Homo sapiens: one gene and its partner. The protein of the gene in region 2 interacts with the protein of the main gene of each other region in a pairwise test. Each region holds a gene or a part of one and is shown on either strand. Other genes may lie near its edges.

What was found. The genes of interacting proteins can lie anywhere in the genome.
Region 1: the proteins of PLXDC1 (region 2) and C5AR2 interact in a two-hybrid assay, tested with the Homo sapiens proteins (one large-scale study listed by BioGRID and IntAct).

What each region holds. Positions count from the first base shown.
Region 1 is NC_000019.10:47,334,350-47,339,601, forward strand, and holds part of C5AR2 (C5a anaphylatoxin chemotactic receptor 2), read left to right. Parts: intron 1-2,745; exon of another isoform or gene 2,746-2,820; intron 2,821-5,252.
Region 2 is NC_000017.11:39,136,918-39,142,414, reverse strand, and holds part of PLXDC1 (plexin domain-containing protein 1 precursor), read left to right. Parts: intron 1-2,582; coding exon 2,583-2,761; intron 2,762-5,497. UniProt on the Homo sapiens protein: Plays a critical role in endothelial cell capillary morphogenesis.

The DNA of each region.
Region 1 (5,252 bases), on a different chromosome or scaffold from region 2:
CTGGGCACAGTGGCTCACGCCTGTAATGGCAGCACTTTTGGGAGGCTGAGGTGGGAGGATTTCTTGAGCCCAGGAGTTTGAGATCAGCCTGGGCAACAGAGTAAGGGCTGTCCATACAGAAAAAAAAAAAAAAATTAGCTGGGCATGATGGCGTGCACCCGTAGTCCCAGCTACTCCAGAGGCTGAGGCAGGAGGATCAGTTGAGCCTAGGAGGTAGAGGCTGTGGTGAGCCGAGGTTGAACCACTGAACTCAGCTTGGGTGACTGAACAAGACGAAAACACAAAACAAAAGCCCCCAACATTTTCAACATAAGTTGAAAATATTGTAAATCAAATTGGATTTAATACACCTAGCTTACTGAACATCATAGCCTACTTTTTTTTTTTGAGACAGGGTCTCACTCTGTTGTCCAGGCTGGAGTGCAGTGGCGCGATCTTGGCTCACTGCAGCCTTGACCTCACGGGCGTAGCCTACCTCAAATGTGTTCAGAACATTTACATTACCCAACAGCAAGACAAAATCATCTAAGCCAAATCCAATTTTTTTTTTTTTGAGATGGAGTCTCACTCTGTCACCCATGCTGGAGTGCAGTGGTGTGATCTCAGCTGACTGCAACCTCCACCTCCCAGCTTCAAGGGATTCTCCTGCCTCGGCCTTCTGAGTAGCTGAGATTACAGGCACTCGCCCCCACGCCCAGCTAATTTTTTTTTTTTTTTAAATCTTTAGCAGAGATGAGATTTTATCATGTTGGCCAGGCTGGTCTCAAACTCCTGACCTCAAGTGATCCGTCTGCCTAGGACTCCCAAAGCGTTGGGATTACAGGTGTGAGCTTCTGCACCTGGCCCTGTTTCTCATTATTCTCCTTACCATTGTTATTGAATGGCCTTTAGTTAATAAGCACCACTTGGGCAGACAGTGGACTGTTTTTGATGCTTTGAGGACGAATGGGGTTGATATCTGTACAGATAGACAGGAAAACAGATATCGGGCACGTTAAGTGGAAAAGATGAAGAAATGGAACAACGTATGTTGAAAGCTCCCATTTCTGGTTAAGACGTTACAAAGGAAATGCCATCTACGATACCATTGCTTTGGGCTTACAGCTGGGCAAATTATATGCACAGAAAGTTTCCTGGATTGGGCTGGGCATGTTGACTCACGCCTGTAATCCCAGCACTTTGGGAGGCCGAGGTGGGCGGATCATGAGGTCAGGAGATTGAGACCATCCTGGCTAACACGGTGAAACCCTGTCTCTACTAAAAATACAAAAAATTAGCCGGAAGTGGTAGCGGGCGCCTGTAGTCCCAGCTACTCGGGAGACTGAGGCAGGAGAATCATGCGAACCCGGGAGGTGGAGCTTGCAGTGAGCCGAGATCGCACCACTGCACTCCAGCCTGGGCGACAGAGTGATACTCCGTCTCAAAAAAAAAAAAAAAAAAAAAAAAAAAAAAAGAAAGTTTTCGTTTTCTGGATTGTAATCAACAAGGGCCAGGAAGGGTGGAGTCTTTGCGGGGTGAGAGGATGCGTGTGGACAGTGATAACAGCAGCTAGCCTACGTATGACACCCACTGAAAACCAGCGCTATACACTCAGCTCTACCCTTCTAACTTGTTGAATTCTTACAACACCCCCTAAGGCAGGAATATTATTATTCCCATTTTACTGAGGCACAGATAGTTTAGGTGACTTGCCCAAGGCCACACAGCTGGTAGGAATTTGAGGGTTTTTGTTGTTGTTGTTTGTTTGTTTGTTTTTTATGATGCAGTCTCGCTGTTGTCGCCCAGGCTGGAGTGCAGTGGCATGATCTTGGCTCACTGCAACCTCTGCCTCCCGGGTTCCAGCGATTCTCTTGCCTCAGTCTCCCGAGTAGCTGGAATTACAGGAGCCCACAACCATGCCTGGCTGATTTTTGTATTTTTAGTAGAGACCAGGTTTCACCATGTTGCTCAGGCTGGTCTTGAACTCCTGGCCTCAAGTGATCCGCCCACCTCGGCCTCCCAAAGTGCTGGGATTACAGGTGTGAGCCACTGTGCCCGGCTAGGGGGGGTTCAGTTTTTAAATGCTGTACTCTTTCTTTCTTTCTTTCCTTCCTTCCTTCCTTCCTTCCTTCCTTCCTTCCTTCCTTCCTTCCTTCCTTCCTTTCTTTCTTTCTTTCTTTCTTTTTCTTTCTTTCTTGGGACAGGGTCTCACTCTGTTGCTCAGGCTGGAGTGCAGTGGCGCGATCATGGCTAACTGCAGCCTCAAACTCCTGGGCTCATGTGATCTTCCACCCCAGTCTTAGAAAAGGTTGGGATTGCAGGCACGAACCACTATGCCTGGCTAATTTTTAAATTTTTTGTAGAGACAGAGGGTCTCACTGTGTTGCCTAGGCTGGTCTTGAACTCTTGGCCTCAAGCGATCCTTCCTCCTCAACTCAGCCTCCCAATGTACTGGGATTACAGGTGTGAGCCACTGCACCTGGCTAAATTCTGCACACCTTTTACTCTAGGGATAAAAATAATACGAAAGTGGAATGCCAGACTCCGAATACACACACCAAGTGGCCTGGACTCTTCACTGCTACCTGGCATGGGGGAGGGGAGTGCCCCAACTTCCTCTCTGTCCTTCCTGTTGCCTCAACACCAGCTGGAGTGCTGAGCAGTGCCAGCCAACCCATAATAGTCAGCAGAGAGCCTCAGGGCCAGGTCACTCTGACATTGTGGGGGTGGGGGGGTGGGGACTCCTGCCTGGGTCCTGTGCTACCCACAGCTTTGTCTACCGGAGCCTGTGTGCCACGTGCTGGACAAATCTTAACTCCTCAAGGACTCCCAAAACCAGAGGTAGGTTCACCTCAATGACTCTTGTTTCCCCGATGAGGAAATAGGCACAGCCAGCTGCAACTGACACCCACAGTCATGGAGGCCGGGGCTGCTCAGGACCACTTGCTGTGCTGCCTGCCAGCTCTCCAGAGCCCAAGATTTGGAGATGGTAATATTCTAGGGCATGGGGTTCTGCAGCGGGGACTAACACACTTTGAAATTTACCTACTTAGGGCTGGGCGCGGTGGCTCATGCCTGCAATCCCAGCACTTTGGGAGGCTGAGGTGGGCGGATCACAAGGTCAGGAGTTCGAGACCAGCCTGGCCAATATGATGAAACCCCGTATCTACTAAAAATACACAAATTAGTTGGGCATGGTGGCGGGTGCCTGTAGTCCCAGCTACTCAGGAGGCTGAGGCGGGAGAATTGCTTGAACCCTGGAGGCGGAGGTTGCAGTGAGCCGAGATTGCGTCACTGCACTCCAGCCTGGATGACAGAGCGAGACTCTGTCTCAAAAAAAAAAATTTTACCTACTTAGCTGAGTGATCTTAGGTAAATTACTTAACTTCTCTGTGCCTTATCTGTAGAATAAATATAACAATAGTGTCAAATTCAGACAGTTATTATAAGGTTTCAGTGAGGTCAGGCACGGTGGCTCATGCCTGTAATCCTAGCACTTTGGGAGGCCGTGGCAGGCAGACCACTTGAGGTCAGGAATTCCAAACCAGCCTGACCAACATGGTGAAACCCCGTCTCTACTAAAAATACAAAAAATTAGCCCCGGGCATGGTGGTGCACGCCTGTAATCCCAGCTACTCGGGAGGCTTGTGGCAGGAGTAATGCTTGAACCCAGGAAGCAGAGGTTGCAGTGAGCCAAAATAGCGCCACTGCACTCCAGCCTGGGTAGCAGAGTGAGACTCCGTCTCAAAAAAAAAAATAAATAAAATAAAATAAAACAAGGTTTCAGTGATACAGTGTTTAAAGCTGCGTGGTGGCCACTGCCTGTAGTCCCAGCTACTCAGGGGGCAGAGGTGGGAGGATCACTTGAGCACAGAGTTTGAGGCTGCAGTGAGCCGTGATTGCACCACTGCACTCCAGCGTTGGCAAGATGGCGAGACCCTGTCTCTAAAAAAAATATATATATATAAATTTGCCAGGTGTGGTGGTGCACACCTGTAGTCCCACGTACTCAGGAGGCTGAGGTGGGAGGACCACTTGAGCCCAGGAGTTCGAGGCTGCAGTGAGCCAAGATAGTGCCATTGCATTCCAGCCTGAGTGACAGAGCAATATCTGTCCCTAAAAAAAAAAAAAAAGTTGACACAAAACACAAAATGTTCAAGAAACAGTGGCTTCCAATAATAATAATTTTATTATTATTATTATTGTCAGGCACAGTGGCAATCATGCCTGTAATCCCAGCAGTTTGAGAGGCTGAGACAAGGCAGGTTGCTTAAGCCCCAGAATTCAAGACCAGCATGGGCAACATGGTGAAACCAGATGACCTCCAAAATAATAATAATAATAATAATAATAATAATAATTAATCAGGCATGATGGTGTGCACCTGTAGTCCTAGCTACTTGGGAGGGTGAGGTGGAGGGTTGCTTGAGCCCAGGAGATGGAGGCTGCAGTGAGCTGGGAAAGTGCCGCTGCAGTCCAGTCTGGGCTACAGAGCCAGACCCTGTCTCAAAAAATAGTAATAATATAGTAATAATATTATTGTGGCCCGACATGGTGGCTCACGCCTGTAATCCCAGCACTTTGGGAGGCTGAGGCAGGTGGATCACCTGAGGTCAGGAGTTCGACACCAGCCTGGCTAACATGGTGAAACCCCATCTCTACTAAAAATACAAAAATTAGCCAGGTGTGGTGGCATGTACCTGTAATCTCAGCTACTTGGGAGGCTGAGGCAGGAGAATTGCTTGAACCCAGGAGGCGGAGGTTGCAGTGAGCCGAGATCATGCCACCACACTCCAGCCTGGGCAACAGAGCAAAACTCTGTCTCAAAAAAAATAAATTATTGCTATGATAGATTATGTCGCTTCCTTGCTCAGCACCCTCCTATAGCACCTGTCTCATTTGGAATAAATGATGATGTCCTTGCGTTGCCCACGTGGCCCTACATGCCGTGGCCCCTGATAACTGTTTTTCATTTGTTTTGTTTTGTTTTGTTTTTTTCTTTTTTTGAGATGGAGTCTTGCTCTGTTGCCCAGGCTGGAGTGCACTGGCATGATCTCAGCTCACAGCAACCTCCGCCTCCCTGGTTCAAGTGATCCCTCCTGCCTCAGCCTCCTGAGTAGCTGGGATTACAGGCGTCCACCATCACTCCAGGTTATTTTTGTGTTTTTAGGAGAGATGGGGTTTCACCATGTTGGCCAGGCTGGTCTCAAACTCCTGACCTCAGGTGATCCACCCACCTTGGCCTCCCAAATTCCCGTGATTACTGGCATGAG
Region 2 (5,497 bases):
TCCAATCCTGTGCCCATGGCAGACATTGCTTATTGATCTTCACAGTCCTTCCTGCTAAATACAAGAGGAGCCTTTGCATTCTCAGTTGGAGTGCCTCTGGCTGTCACGAATGGATTGCAGATGGCATGTGATATGAAACCTATTTGCCATCCTAGACAGTATCTAGGTAGTGATAGGAGTAAAACAGTAAAAAATTACCCCTCCCTCAATGGGGCAAGGGGGGGTTAATTTTATTCCCCAGGGGATATTTGGCAATGTTTGGAGACGTTTTTCATTGTCACAGCTTGGGATGGGGAGGAGCGTGGTGCTACTGGCATTTAGTGAGCAGGGGCCAAGGCTGCGGCTGCTAAACATCTTACAGAGCACTGGACAGTTCCCGCATAACAATGAATTATCCAGTCCAACCAACAATCCAATTTAAAAACAGGAAAAAGACTTAAATAGACATTTCTCCAAAGAAGATATACAAATGGCCCACAAGCATATGAAAAGATGTTCGGCATCACTAATCATCAGGGAAATGCCAATTTATAAAAACGATGAGATATAACCTCATACCTGTTAGGATGGCTACTATAAAAAAAACAGAAAATAACAAGTATTGGCAAGAATGTGGAGAGATTGGAACCCATGTGCACGGTTGGTGGGAATGTAAAATGGTCCAGTCATTTTACATGGAAAACATTTTATATGGAAAACAGTATGACAATTCCTCAAAAAATTAGAAATAGAATTACCATACAATCCAGCAATTCCGCTTCTGGGTATATACCCAAAAGAATTGAAGGCCAGGTCTCAAAGAGATATTTGTACACCCATGTTTGTAGCAGCATTGTTCACAATAGCTAAAACGTGGAAGCAAAACAGACATCCATTGATAGTTGAGTGGGTTAGCAAAATGTGGTATATCCACACAATGGAATATTATTCAGCCTTCAAAAGGAAGTCAATTCTGCCATATGCTACGACATGAATGAACCTTGAATTTATTATGCTAAGTGAAATAAGCCAATCACAAAAAGACAAATATAGTATGATGCCATTTATATGAGATACTTAGAGTAGTCAAAATCATAGATACAGGCTGCGCGCTGTGGCTCATATCTGTAATCCCAGCACCTTGGGAGCCAAGGCAGGAAAATTGCTTGAGACCAGGAATTCAAGACCAACCACCCTGAACAAAATAGTGAGACCCTGTCTCTATAAAAAGTAAAAAGATTAGCTGGGCATGGTGGCGCATGCCTATAGTCCCAGCTACTTAGGAAGCTGAGGTGGGAGGATCGCATGAGCCCAGCAGTTGGAGGCTGCAGTGAGCTATGATCGCACCACTACTCCCCAGCCTGGGTGACAGAGCAAGGCCCCATCTCTTAAATAAAATAAAATAACAGGGGTGAATAGGGAGTTATTATTTAACGGGTACAGAATTTTAGTTTTACAAGGTGAAAAGAGTTATGCAGATAGATGGTGGTGATGGTCATACAACATTAGGAATGTATTTAATGTTACTGAATTGTACACTTGGAAATGGTTAGATGGCAAATTTTGTTATGTGTATTTTGCCACAATAAAAAAATTGGAAAAGGAATTATCCAGTCCAAATGTCAATAGTACCGAGGTTGAGAAGCCCTGAACGAAAAGAACTCTGGCTTCTAGTCCCCTGACCCCACTGGGAAATAGGATTATGTGCCATTTCTGCCAGAGAAATAAGAAACTGGTTTGGAAGGCTCAACGGCAATGGTTCTCACCCTTGCCTGCAGAGTTAAGTCCAAGACTCCTCAAAATCTCCCCTGAGGCTCTTTTAAGAAATCGAGGCTAGGCGCGGTGGCTCACGCCTGTAATCCCAGCACTTTGGGAGGCCGAGACGGGTGGATCACGAGGTCAGGAGATTGAGACCATCCTGGCTAACACGGTGAAACCTCGTCTCTATTAAAAATACAAAAAATTAGCTGGGCGCGGTAGCGGGCGCCTGTAGTCCCAGCTACTCGGGAGGCTGAGGCAGGAGAATGGCGTGAACCCTGGAGGCGGAGCTTGCAGGGAGCGGAGCTCGGGCCACTGCACTCCAGCCTGGGTGACAGAGCGAGACTCCATTTCAAAAAAAGAAAAAGAAAAAGAAATTGAATGCCCAGGCTACACCATAGACCAGTTACAAGAGATCTCTAGGGTGGGACCCAGACATCAGGAACTTTTGAAGCTGTCCAGGTGACTCCAGTGTATAGCTGAGGTTGAGAATAATCACCCTTTGGAGGCAGATCAGCTTGGGTTTGAAACTTACCTGCATGCCTAACCCACTGCGTGACTTTTAACCTCTGAGCCTCTGATTCTTGTTTGCAAAATGGAGAACATCCTAACTACTGCGGAGAGCTGGCATGAGGATTAAAAGGATATGTGCGAAGTGCTTGGCCTGGAGCTGGGCACGTGACTCTCAGTACACATTGGGTGTCTCCTGTCCTGGTAGTCAGTCAAGTGTCTGCAAATTCTACAGTGGCATGGTGTTGGGGCCCTTGCAGAATAACTGGGCTGGATTCCCCTCCTGATCTTCATTCCGGACTGCTGGCACTCAGGTTTCTGTCCCCTTCTCCCAGGTCACGATGAGGGCCCAGGCTCTGGATGGGCTGCCAAAGGGACCGTGCGGGGCTGGAACCGGAGAGCCCGAGAGAGCCCTGGGCATGTGTCAGAGCCGGACAGGACCCAGCTGAGCCAGGACCTGGGTGGGGGCACCCTGGCCATGGACACGCTGCCAGATAACAGGACCAGGGTGGTGGTGAGTGCTGGAGGAACATGGAGGGGGAGCGAAGTGGGGGTGGGGGAGGTCTCACCAGCTGCCCCAGGTGTGCTTGTCCTACATGCAAATCACATATCATTTGGGGTTGGCCCCGGAGGACAGGGTGGAGAGAAGAATCCCCGGGGAGGGGATGGAAGCAGGGCCCAGACTGGGTCATAAAATCACAGCATCTCAGCGTTTCATAGGCTGCCTACTCCCTCCTGGACCCAGAGACATCAAATGGATTGTATCAGGATGCACAGCCTGACCACAGCATTCCTGAAACTGGACTCTCCCATGACTTAGGGAAGAAAAAGCTGACAGTGGCCTTATGAGTCACATCTCAGCTGCCAGATGGGGCCCTTCCCCACCCCATTTCTGCCCCATCTACAGACTGGGGCGCAAGAGGATTAATGGCTGCTTAGCCTAAGGGCTGGGCACTCAGCAGGGGGCTGAGTAGAGAAAGCAATTAGGGTGCAGCTCCTGGAGACAACCTCCTTGGCCTGGGGCAGTTCTGGGGTGCTGGCACAGGGAGGAGAGGCCTGGAGGGAGTGCTCTTCTCTCAGGGTTTCCGGGAGGCTCTTGGAAGCCTCGGTGTGTCTGGGGGTGAATCTATTAATATAATTGTGCGTTTCTGGGAATGGGTGTGTGTGTCATGGACGCTGGGTTCGCACCTGTGTCAGATGATTTTGTATATTATGTATGTGTACCTGTCTGTCACTGTGGGCTGTTTGTGGGTGTCTGTGATGAGCATGTGTAAGTGTGAGTGTGCCTGTGGCTGTGTGTGTAGGTGCCTGCGGCTGGGAGTGATGAGGGTGGATTCTTAGGACGCAAGAAGCAACAAGAGGACCTTCTTCTCAGTATAGATTTATTTTATATTTTAATAACTATTTTCTTAAATTAGTATGTGCTGACAGTTAAAAAAAAAAAAGGTTAAATAGTGCTAAAATCATAAAACAAAACAGCAGTCCTGCCCCTCCTCTCCCCTGGGGCCTGCCCCCTTCCCTTTCTCAGAAGGCTCTGTCTGGGCTGTTTCCTCTGGAGTTTACTTCCATATTTCCAAGGGATTTGCTTATACTGTACTGCTACCTCTCTGTGCACTGGTTTTAGGCCGTACCTATTCATGGCCTGCTGCGGCTCAGGGAGATTTGGCTTTTGTATACTCCCGCTGAGCAACCTTTCACCCTGCCGCCCAATCTTCCTGTTCAATCCGTGTGCTCGGTTGTGGATTGTGACGATCATGTACATAGTGTTCACTTCTAATCCAGGCAGGGTCATAACATTGTTTCTTTTCTTGTATGATTTTGGCTCTTCCTGGATCCTGGCCCCCTCTCCTGCCCTTGCTTACTTAGTTTTCTGTGCCTACCGTAGCTACATTTTCCTACACGTCCCCTAGCCTCAAATGTAATTCCAGTGTGGGCTGGGCATGGTGGCCCACACCTGTAATCCTAGCACTTTGGGAGGCCCAGACGGGTGGATCGCTTGAGCTCAGGAGTTCCAGAATAGCCTAAGCAACATAGTGAGACCCACGTCTCTAAAAAATTAAAACAAAAATTATCTGGATGTGGTGGTTTGCCCCTGTAGTCCCAGCTACTTGGGAGGCTAAGGCTGGAGGATTGCTTGAGCCTGGGCGGTCAAGGCTGTGCTGAGCTGTGACCTCACCAGCCTGGGAAAAAGAAGAAGACTCTGTCTCCGAAAAAATATAAAAGAAAGAAAATAAGATAATTCAGGGTGGTCAAACCTGTCAGTTCCTTTATCCCCCCGAGAAACTTCTCTCCTGTCCTGCACTCCAATCCCGCCCAGCCACTCGCCTGCTGGTACCACGGGTGCCATCCTGGGGCCTCCCTTTCTGTTCGTCCTGGGAACCCCTTTGTCTCCCTCCTGTGTTGGATCCCCTGTTCCCTTGACCCTGTGTCTTCTCTTTCCTGCTTCATCCTTTTGTTTGTTTAGCTTCCTGGGAAAGGTTGCACAGAGGGAAAAATTCCCTTGAGAACGTGCATGTCTGAAGATATCTTTATTCTGTCCTTTCATTTGACTAGTGGTTTGGCTGAATATAGAATTCTAGATTGAAAATAATTTACTTTTTCTTTTTTTTGAGATGGAGTCTCGCTCTGTCGCCAAGGCTGGAGTGCAGTGGCACAATCTTGGCTCATTGCAACCTCCTCCTCCTCCTGGGTTCAAGCGATTCTTCTACCTCAGCCTCCTGAGTAACTGGGATTACAGGTGTGTGCCACTATGCCCAGCTAATTTTTTGTATTTTTAGTAGAGATGGGGTTTCACCATGTTGGCCAGGCTGGTCTCAAACTCCTGACTTCAAGTGATTTGCTAGCCTCTGCCTCCCAAAGTGCTGGGATTACAAGTGTAAGCCACCGCTCAAGGCCTTGAAAATAGTTTTCTTTCACAAGTTTGAAGGCATCTCTCCATTGTCTTCTGGCTTCTGATTCACTGTTAGAGGCTTGGTGTGATTCTTATTTTTGACCTTTGTGTATGCCGGTTTTCCCCTGACTTCTGGAAGCTCTCAGGGTACTCCCTGTAACTCCAGCATTCTGAAATTGCAGTGACATGACCTTCTCTGGCTGTTTTTGTTTGCCATGCTGGACGTTGGGGGACTGTTTCAATCAAGAGACTTACATTTGTCAGTTCTGGAAAGCGTTTTTGCTTTATTTCTTTCAGATTTCTCCTTTCTACAATTCCTCATGGTTAGATGTCCATTTCTGGAAGTGATCCTTCAATTTT